Homo sapiens: one gene and its partners. The protein of the gene in region 1 purifies or fractionates together with the protein of each later gene. This does not show direct contact. Each region holds a gene or a part of one and is shown in the gene's direction. Other genes may lie near its edges. The genes, in order: RNF14, GCN1 and LEF1.

Region 1 (3,654 bases):
TCCCATAAACCTTGGGGAATCACTAGCTTATTCTTGTGTGAGGTTGGCATCTGAAGGGGACGTCTCTTAGAATGATTAACCAACTTTTTTATAGACTTCAGCAGAAGTACAGCCTACTTAGGTGGTGGTGGTGTTGTTGTTGTTGTTGTTGTTGTTGTTTTGTTTGAGATGGAGTCTTGCTGTGTCACCCAGGATGGAGTGCAGGGGCATGATCTCAGCTCACGGCAACCTCTGCCTCCAAGGTTCAAGTGATTTCCTGCCTCAGCCTCCCAAGTAGCTGGGATTACAGGCACCCGCCACCATGCCCGGCTAATTTTTTTTGTATTTTTAGTAGAGACGGGGTTTCACCACGTTGGCCAGGCTGGTCTTGAACTCCTGACCTCAAGTGATCCTCCCGCTTTGGCCTCCCAAAGTGTTGGGATTACAGGCGTGAGCCACTGCTCCTGGCCAGTTTTTTGTTTTCTTATTAAAGCATAATTTTACTTAAAATAAACTACACATTTAAATCATACAAGGCTAGCATGGTAGCTTACACCTATAATCCCAGCACTTTGGGAGGCCAAGATAGGAGGATCGCTTGAGGCTAGGGGTTTAAAACCAGCCTGTGCAAAATAGCATGACTCCATGTCTTAAAAAAAAAAAATCAGGCATGATGGCAAGTGCCTGTTGCCCTAGCTACTTGGGAAGCTGAGGTAGAGAATCATTTGAGCCCAGGAGTTCAAGGCTGCAGTGAGCTATGATTGCACCACTGCACTCCAGTCTGTACGACAGAGTAAGACCCCATCTCTAAAGAAATAAAACTAAAATATAAAATAAATTGGACACTTTGCTTAGTTTTAACAAATGTGTAGACCCCTATAATTGTCATCTCAGTCAAAATGTACTTGGTTTGATTTTGAAGTGAAAGAGAGGTTTTAATTTATGTGCCCATCTGGTTTACACTAGCATCCTAAGAATCGCCTCAGGTTCAGAACTGGTTGTGGAATCATCAAACCTATGGTGTTTTGTATTTCCCTCCAGGTCAAAGAGTTAGTGGAAGCAGAGTTATTTGCCCGTTATGACCGCCTTCTCCTCCAGTCCTCCTTGGACCTGATGGCAGATGTGGTGTACTGCCCCCGGCCGTGCTGCCAGCTGCCTGTGATGCAGGAACCTGGCTGCACCATGGGTATCTGCTCCAGCTGCAATTTTGCCTTCTGTACTTTGTGCAGGTTGACCTACCATGGGGTCTCCCCATGTAAGGTGACTGCAGGTATGTTTTAACTGTGAACCCAAACCCCCATCCCCAGTCTCTCCCTCACATTTCACTCTACTACCAGGGCCTTATGACTTCATTCTTCAATTTGGAAGTATTCATTTAGCAGATATTTCTGTGTCAGTGACTATCTCAGGCCTTGGGGCTGTAGTAGTGACCAGAAGAGACAAAATGTCTGCCCTCATGGAACTCACATTCTACCAGGGGAGACAGGAAAACAAAATAAGGATATTAGGTGGTGGTAAGTGCTGAAGAGGCAGAAGAAATAAAGCAAGGACAGGATATGAAATGTTCTGAAGGGGAGGGGACTTGGGATTTTAGTTAGGGAAAACAGGGGAGGCCTCACCGGCAAAATGGTTTAAGTAAGGACTTGAAGGAGGTAAGAAAAACCGTGCAGATACCAGGGAGGAACATTCCAGGAGAAGGAATGGCACAGGAAATTCTATATACAAACATGGAATAATGTAGATCCTGGATGGCCAATGCAGGGCATCTAAGCTGCCATTCTTGTCTCCATGGCACATGTGTTTGACTAGTCATCAAATGCTTTCTCCTTGAGCCCAGAGAGGCCTCAGAATCTTCCTCAACATGGCACTTCGGAAAGCTACCCTCTGATGAAGTAGACACAGGAGTGAAATGTGTTTGCCGTTTCCAGTCTACGTAAGGAATCATAAATCAGGCCCTTAACGTCGATTTAATTGGACTTTGGTGGCTTAGTCTTCTTCAGACTAACAGGGATAATGATAACAGCTACCTCACAAAATTGCAGCTAGAGCAGATAACAATAACTTCACGGGGTTATTCTAAGGATGAAGGGAACGAATATCATGCTATTCAAAATTGTTATATTTGTTACACTGGTGTATAATATATAGAAATTGAGAGGGTTAGAAACTTTTATAGTGATTTCACATAATTTTATGTCAAATCTAATAAAAATTTAGACTTTTTTTCATTTTTCTAATAATTGATTGTTAGCTGACTGTGGTGGTGCACACCTGTAGTTCTAGCTATTCAGAAGGCTACAGCAGGAGGATCTTTTGAGCCTCAGTTGAGACTAGCTTGGGCAACGTAGTGAGACTCTGCTTCTAAAAAAATTAAATCAAGCAAACCTGGTTATATCTTATAAAAGTGTTGATCTTTGACGTATCAGAGAAAAAATAAACTGGGCCTTTACCATAAATAGTTTGAGAAACAGTGGGCTAATACATGTAAAATGCAGAATGGGGCTGGGCATAGTGGCTCACCTCTGTAATCTCAGCACTTTGGGAGGCCAAGGTGGGCGGATTGCTTGAGTCCAAGAGTTTGACACTATGGCAAAACCCCGTGTCTACAAAAAAATACAAAAATTAACGAGGTGTGGTGGTGCACATCTGTAGTCTCAGCCACTCAGGTTGCTGAGGCGGGAGGATCGCTTGAAACTGGGAGGTAGAGGCTGCAGTGAGCCAGATTGCACCACTGCACTCCAGCCTGGGGGACAGAGTGGGACCCTGTCTCAAAAAAAAAAAAAGAGGAAAAAGAAAAATAGTAATTATTAATGCTATTATTATTGTAGTTATTACTTGCTAATGTTAGCAGACTGTCATTATTTCCAAGAAAGTACCATGAGAGGAAAGAGTGGGTAGATAATTTCAGTTGCCTCAGGCAGCACCTTGCAGAAGGTAAGGCCAGATGGAATGGAGAACTTAGCAATGTATAATATAAGCCTTTACTTTAGACTTCTGTAACCTTTTCATTAAAAGTCAACAGTACATTTCAAGTGTTTCACAGCATTCAGGGAAGAAATTGAAGATAGATTCAGGGCTTTAGCAAAATTAGGAATCTCTCCCTCTCTTTGTATGTATATATTATATAAAATATGAAATACAATTTTATTATTTTGGGAAGACTAAAGCAATATAACCTTTGTCCTTAAGATGCCTAGGAACACAAAAATGCATTGAATTATTAGAGGGATGAGATTTACATTGCTTCACTGCTACATTGAAGTAGAGGTGATGAAGCTGTGGGAATGTACTACACAGAGAAAGAATTCACAGGTGAAAGCAAAGAGTGGAGATAGGATATAGGATTCTATACCAGAAGATGTCTTTTGCTTTAAAAGGGAGATAGACTTCCAAATAATGTGAGGAAAGTAAACTGATAAAATAACTAGAACATTGTTGAGAAAACTCTTTAATTAATTGTATTGAAAAATTAAGGTAATACAACTGTGAACAAAAGCCTTTTGTCTGCAAGTAAAACCTTTGGGATTGGTTACCTGTTCCATTTCAGTTAAATGATAGAGCAGTAGAAGCCAGATTGAAGAGTATCGAGGGAAAACTTTTCAGCACCTGTAGCAAAGCATAGTACGGGGTGAGACTTGGGTGCTAAGTTTTATTCACTGATTTTTTTTTTTTACA
Region 2 (3,654 bases), on another chromosome or scaffold:
AGACTTCTCAGAACTCTTTGGTTTTGACTCTGTGTGCATCTATGACTATAAAAACAAAAGACATTTTAAAGTTAAAACTACATTATTTATGTAGAAGACAGTTTTGGACATCAGTTTCTTTTATTCATTGCCAATAGAATTATGGCAGGGATTTAAGCACGAAAAACTCAGCATTATTTTATTTCTGTGTGTACGCTTGACTCTTACGCTACTGATAAGGCCTGCCTTTGAAATACCCTCAAAAGAAAAACATGATAACCCCACTGTGTTAAGTTACATGAGCCTTATCATGCCCTGCTCTACGGCTTATGAATCCACAACCTGTCCACTTGGTAGCTTGTAGAATATTGCTCAAGAGCAGATTTTCAGGGATGTTTGCAAACTGCCCCCCATCACTGGGTCTTATGCTTATGTCCCTATGCAGGGGACTGCAGCTGTGGTAACTCGATGGCTGTTGAAAGCTAAAGATTTGTTAGCATCAGTTTATAGACCTGTTTGGTTTCAAAGTTAGTTTCAAAAACGCAGGTGCTGTGGCTCTCGACCCCACTCTGAGCAGTGACTTCCTCTCTTGGAGATGGTTTCTTCATCGCCTATAAAATGGGGATACTGATGCCTCCCTTGCAGGCTTTTTGGTAGTAGTAGCCAACTTTTTGCTTGGGATGAGAGTAGATGCACCTTATACGCAATCTCATTTAAGCTCCATAACAGTCATATGAGGTAGCTGCTATTGTCCGCATCTTATAGATGAGAAAACTGAAGATTGGGGGAGTGACATTATTTGACTAAGTTTCTACAGCTAGTAAAAGGCAGAGCTGGGATCCAATCTCCTAACCTTTCCCCCTTTAGCCAGTGTGCTTATCCTCTGCCAGTGAGTTGCCAGGATGCTGACATTCCCTTTATGGGGAGGTTAAAGTGAGATAATGTAAAGGGAACATAGTTGGCACGTACCAGGCCCTTGCTAGATTTTGGGTAGTTCTGAAGGGATATTTTCTTTTCAGAGGTCTTTGCCTTTCCTCTTATTGCCAAAGTTTAAATAAGGTATATTGATTTGTTGACTAGTTGAATTAAAGCAGTACATCTCAAGTGGGAGTGATTTTGCCTGCCAGGAGACATTTGACAATGTCACAACTGGGGCGGGTGGGGAAGGTGGGCTGCTACTGACATCGAGTGGGTAGAGACCTGGAATGCTGCTAAAAACACGGCCCCCACAACCAGAATTACCCGGTGCAAAATGTCACCAGTGGGGAGGTTGAGAAACCCCAGGTTAGAGAGATCCCCAAATTCTACACCCACCCCTCAACACACACACTCATAGTTTTATAGTCTGACTAGTGAATTTTTCTGTTGCTTGGCCTTCACAGGTTTCCGAGACACTAAAGCGTTTTGCAGGGAAGGTGACAACAGCCAGTGTAAAGGAACGGAGAGAAATCCTCAGTGAACTTGGGAAGTGTGTTGCTGGAAAAGGTATTTATTTTTCATCCACATACCCTGGACAATATTCATTGTTTTTCTTTCTTTCTTTTTTTTTTTTTTTTTTGAGACAGAGTCTCTCACTGTTGCCCTGGCTGAAGTGCAATGGCACGATCTCAGCTCATTGCAACCTCCACCTCCTGGGTTCAAGCGATTTTCCTGCCCTCAGCCTCCCGAGTAGCTGGGATTACAGGTGCCCATATCATGCCTGCCTAATTTTTGTATTTTTAGTAGAGATGGGGTTTCTCGAATGACAGTGTTCCATATCAAAAATAAATTTTGTGGTTTTTTTTGTGTTTTTTTCTTCTTTTTGAGACAGAGTCTCACGATGTCACCCAGGCTGGAGTGCAGTGGCACGCTCTCGGCTCACTACAACCTCTGCCTCGCTGGGTTCAGGCGATTCTCATGCCTTAGCCTCTCCAGTAGCTGGGATTACAGGTGTGCGCCACCACACCCAGCTAATTTTCGTGTTTTTAGTAGAGATGGGGTTTCACCATGTTGGCCAGGCTGGTCCTGAACTCCTGATCTTAAGTGATCCGCCTGCCTCAGCCTCTCAAAATGCCGGGGTTACAGGCACGAGCCACTGGGCCCAGCTGAAATTGCCTTTCTTTAGAACCATGGCCTTGGCCAGGCACGGTGGCTCACGCCTGTAATCCCAGCACTTTGGGAGGCTGAGGTCAACAGATCACAAGGTCAGGAGTTTGAGACCATCCTGGCCAACATGGTGAAACCCCGTCTCTATTAAAAAAAAAAGTACAAAAATTAGCCAGGTGTGGTGGTGTGCACCTGTAATCCCAGCTACTAGGGAGGCTGAGGCAGGAGAATTGCTTGAACCTGGGAGGTGGAGGTTGCAGTGAGCCGAGATTATGCCACTGCACTCTAGCCTGGGCAACAGAGTGAGACTCAAAAAAAAAAAAAAAAGCCTGGGTGTGGTGGCTCACGCCTGTAATCCCAACAGTTTGGGAGGCCGAGGCGAGTGGATCACGAGGTCAGGAGTTCGAGACCAGCCTGACCAACATGGTGAAACCCTGTCTCTACTGAAAACACAAAAATTAGCTGAGCATGGTGACGCACGCCTGTAATCCTAGCTACTCAGGAGGCTGAGGCAGGAGAATCGCTTCAACCTGGGAGGCAGTGGAGGTTGCAGTGAGCTGAGATCGTGCTACTGCACTCCAGCCTGGGCGACAGAGCAAGACTCCGTCTCAAATAAAAAAGGAACCATGGCCTTCTTCCCCCCTCCCTGCACAACTTCTGCCTTTACTTTATTTCCTTGCTATAGTGTGAATTGCAACAGTTAAAACTTTTGGGTTCATGGAGAGTTTATCCATTCAGGTGTGAAAGCTATTTACACTTTTAACCATTTTGTTTGGAAATATTTAAAAAAGATAGCTAAAACCTTTCTCAAGTAGTATACAGAGTACAAAAACTTTTTTTTTTTTTTTTGAGACGGAGTCTCACTGTGTTGCCCAGGCTGGAGTGCAGTGGCATGATCTCAGCTCACTGCACGCTCTGCTTCCCGGGTTCATATCATTCTTCTGCCTCAGCCTCTGGAGTAGCTGGGACTACAGGTGCCCACCACCACACCTGTCTAATTTTTTGTATATTTAGTAGAGACAGGGTTTCACCGTGTTAGCCAGGATGGTCTCGATCTCCTGACCTTGTGATCCTCCCAAAGTGCTGGAATTACAGGTGTGAGCCACCGCGCCCAGCCAAAAACATTTTTTTTATGACTTGGGATATCATTTTTCCCAATCTGTGTTCCGTGGAAGTCAGCACCATGGTAGTAGGTGATTGGCCAATAAAGGATTCCAAGATCAAATAAGTTGGGAGAGGTTTTTTTTTTTTTTTTTTCTTTGGTGAGACAGAGTCTCCCTCTGTCACCCAGGCTGGAGTGCTGTGGCGCGACCTCTGCTCACTGCAACCTCCGCCTCCCGGGTTCAAGTGATTCTCCTGCCTCAGCCTCCCAAGTAGCTGGGATTACAGGCACCTGCTACCACGCCCAGCTAATATTTGTATTTTTAGTAGAGATGGGGTTTCACCATGTTGGCCAGTCTGGTCTTGAACTCCTGATCTCAGGTTATCCGCCTGCCTTGGCCTCCCAAAGTGCTGGGATTACAGGCGTCAGCCACCATGCCCAGCCTAGAGGTCATGTTTTTGATGTCCTCTTGGAATATTCGCAACAAG
Region 3 (3,654 bases), on another chromosome or scaffold:
TTGTGTGTGCACATAGTGTCAAGGGGCAGTAACTTGTGAAATCAGAGGAAGCCTGCAGATTTTTGGGCTGAGGAATCTTGACTGTGATGATGATGTGCCACATATCCGCAGTGTAAGTTGGAATCCACTTTGTTCTGTTTATATACATAGTGGAGATGGTTGGCAGGAAGCAAACCATAACCCTTGGAATTCTGCTCACACATGCTATTGAAATTTCATATTACTTTTATTATTTGGCCACAAAAATGGACATAATCCTTGTTGGCTTTAACACACCTACTAGTACTGCTTTCGCTATCCATCTTGCAAAATATAAGACAAGGCCAGGCTTAAATTAAAATCCTCGGCTTCTTATCTCTTTCCCACAGGAAAGCAAATCTGTGTTGAAAACCGTAAAATTAAGAGGAGAGCAAGGATAGCATAATTTAGCAAAAATTCATGGCACCAGATTCTGAGCTATATGACTGGAGGGATAGGTCAGACATTAAGAAGATGCTGCCTGCTAATGCAAGTTCCTTAAGGTGGTGCTCTGGAAAGAAAGAATATATCCAGAAGATTTCCACAGTGTTTACTCTTTATAAGTACCCTAAGAAAATATCTTTGTAGATTGTTTGGCAATTATGCTTATTTATGAGACTTTTAAAATGAAACTGAAAGCCATTATTCTAAAGTATATTTGAAATCTATCGATTTTAACATTTGGGCGTTGAGATTTGTGTTTCCATTTTCAAAAGAGTTCATAATAAACTCCTCCTATCCTCACATCTACCCACCCCCACTTCTAGCATTCTAAATTCCATGTATTTAAGAAGCTTATTCTGTTATTTGGAAAACTGTGTCATTAACACTCGAAAAGCATTAGAAGATTTGTTTAACCTTTTACACATTTATATGCATAGATGTTTGTGCTGAGGTGTGTAGAGAAAAATTGTGTGGCTATGATAATGGCACTCTATTTAATATACGCCAAAAAAGCTATATGAGCTATGCAAGTTTTGCCATTAAAGAAGAGCTGATAATTATAAAATAGGGAAAATCTAGTATGGAAATTATATCATTTTCCAAAAAAAGTGTGATTTTTTTTTCCTTTTTTTTCCCCCCCCCGTAAGTTTCTTTTGGATGGAGGTTGTAATGATAGGGTATAAGAAGAATTACTAATTTTTCTTATAAGATAGGGTATAAGAATTCTAATTTTTCTAAGGGGAGTCCTTCTCATTGGAGCCACATATTTTTTATGGCTAATTTGTAAAAAATATTAAGTTCAAAATTAGTGTATGTCGTAGGTACAGCCACCATACACAAGTGTGTTTTGGGGGCCCTCTTTAACCATTCAGATATGGACTTACATTTTAAGCAGTTCACATTGTGCAGTTTTAGGCACTTCCTCAAATTTTTAAAAAATATGAATATTTGCTTCAGGAGAAAACTGATTTCACATGCATTTTAGTCAATAATATAGTAAGATCTTACTAATTCAAACTAATTATGATGAAGACATGTCTGAACTAGTGAATTGAGCATAATGATATGCTCAATTTTCTCTTAAATTCATGTTACCCATTACTATAGTGTTTTTAAGTAGAGATTTTCCTGCAACTGCTTTAATTATTAGATTAGTTTAAAATCAGAAACAAACACCTTTAACAGGTATATAATTGTGTTGAGTCCCTTTTTCTTTGGTGAAGGGTTTATTGAGTCTCTTTAAAATGATTCCCCTAGAGAAGTTGTTAATGGGTATAAAAATACGGTTAGATAGAAGGAATAAGTTGTAGTATGTACAGTAGAGAAACTGTAGCTAACAATAGATTATTTAATAGCTAGAAGGGAAGAATTTTAATGTTCACAACACAAAGGAAAGATAATGTTTGAGGTGATGGATATCCCAGTTATCCTAACTTGATCATTCCACCTTTTATACAGGTATCAGAATATCACATATACCACAAAATTTCTACAGCTATGCCATATCAATAAAAAATAAATAATAAATAAATAAGTGATTTTACTAATTAGGTTAAACCTACTTAAGTCTTCTTTATATTTTTTAATTACTTAGTAAGCACTTTTGGGTTGGGGGGAACAACCTTAACTTTGTAACCAAAGTAATCACAGATTTCAAATTGATGAAGTCCAATTAGATAACTTGAATTAAAAAGTGTGACTGTTGACTTCCAAATTAAATAATAAAATGTCTGTAAACAAGTATAAGACATATAAAGTGTGTTAAAATATACAATTTTAACAATTAAAAATATTATTAAAGCAGTATTTCAGCTGGACACGGTGGCTCATGCCTATAATCCCAGCACTTTGGGAGGCCAAAGTGGGCAGATCACAAAGTCAGGAGTTCAAAACCAGCCTGGCCAATATAGTGAAACCCTGTCTTTACTAAAAATACAAAAAAAATTAGCTGAATGTGGTGGCGGGTGCCTGTAGTCCTACTTGGGAGGCTGAGGCAGGAGAATCACTTGAACCCGGAAGGTGGAGGTTGCAGTGAGCCAAGATCACACCACTGCACTCCAGCCTGGGCGACACAGTGAAACTCCATCTCAAAAAAAAAAGACAGTATTTCATATTATGCAGTTCAACTCAAGATTGGAAATTCCTTTTTATCAATTAATGTTTATGGAAACTAGAGAAGCAGAAGATGAACTGAGGAGGGCCAAAGCATAATGGCTAGTCTTGTTTGATTGACAAAGCTATAAAACTCGAAAGAATGGTGTACCATGGTTCTTAAAGATGTACAACATAGAGTTATGAACTCTGTAAGCTGAGGGGATATCAGTATAGGAAATTTATATTTATTGGGTTTAAAAATTTATCCTTTGAATTGGCAATATTTATTCATTTATTTGCTCATTGGACAGTTTTTTGCTTTTTGTGCCAGACATATGTAGTGAATACAAATGTTGTAAAACATTCATAAATTTTGCTGTAATTCGCTCTTTATTGACTTAACCTGAGGAAATAATCTAAAAGAGAGTATAAATATATATGTACAGAAATTCATGCCATATGGAAGAGTAGTGATCAACCTAAATCCCTGAAGAGTCACTGGTGAAATAACTGATAACTCATGAATATCAGTGACATATTCATATATTTGAGAAGTATTTACCATGGAAAAATTCAGAAAAATTCTAAAAGAGACATTTCCACCTGTCCAGGTCTGAAGGTGATTCTTGGGTTATGTTGATGACTGGTTACTGCTGCTGTGTGAATTTTTTTCTTTGGGAGAAAAGACTGGAGCTGGGCATCCATATTAACTATTGACCTTGTGGTTACTTTGCAGTCAAATAAAGTGCCCGTGGTGCAGCCATCCCATGCGGTCCATCCTCTCACCCCCCTCATCACTTACAGTGACGAGCACTTTTCTCCAGGATCACACCCGTCACACATCCCATCAGATGTCAACTCCAAACAAGGTGAGAGTCCCTGTCTTTCCAGGCCCTTTTTTTTTGCCAAATGAAGAGCCAAATCTCATCAGCCTGAGTGACCTTCCAGATGCCAGTGCTCCATGTCACTGGGTGGATCAGAATGTGTTTTTACAAGACAAGAGTAATTCATTTGATAGCAATTCTTTGGAAACACACAAGAATCTGTTACATTTATTATGCATTATTAAAAAGCAGAAGAAAAGCATAGCAGGGCCAC

The links.
Region 2: the proteins of RNF14 (region 1) and GCN1 purify together in Homo sapiens (affinity purification with western blotting; one study listed by BioGRID). This does not show direct contact.
Region 3: the proteins of RNF14 (region 1) and LEF1 purify together in Homo sapiens (affinity purification with western blotting, with the first as the bait; one study listed by BioGRID). This does not show direct contact.

Annotation. Positions count from the first base shown.
Region 1 is NC_000005.10:141,979,103-141,982,756, forward strand, and holds part of RNF14 (E3 ubiquitin-protein ligase RNF14), read left to right. Parts: intron 1-1,020; coding exon 1,021-1,249; intron 1,250-3,654. UniProt on the Homo sapiens protein: E3 ubiquitin-protein ligase that plays a key role in the RNF14-RNF25 translation quality control pathway, a pathway that takes place when a ribosome has stalled during translation, and which promotes ubiquitination and degradation of translation factors on stalled ribosomes.
Region 2 is NC_000012.12:120,188,108-120,191,761, reverse strand, and holds part of GCN1 (stalled ribosome sensor GCN1), read left to right. Parts: intron 1-1,361; coding exon 1,362-1,464; intron 1,465-3,654. UniProt on the Homo sapiens protein: Ribosome collision sensor that plays a key role in the RNF14-RNF25 translation quality control pathway, a pathway that takes place when a ribosome has stalled during translation, and which promotes ubiquitination and degradation of translation factors on stalled ribosomes.
Region 3 is NC_000004.12:108,088,896-108,092,549, reverse strand, and holds part of LEF1 (lymphoid enhancer-binding factor 1), read left to right. Parts: intron 1-3,292; coding exon 3,293-3,425; intron 3,426-3,654. UniProt on the Homo sapiens protein: Transcription factor that binds DNA in a sequence-specific manner. Participates in the Wnt signaling pathway. Activates transcription of target genes in the presence of CTNNB1 and EP300.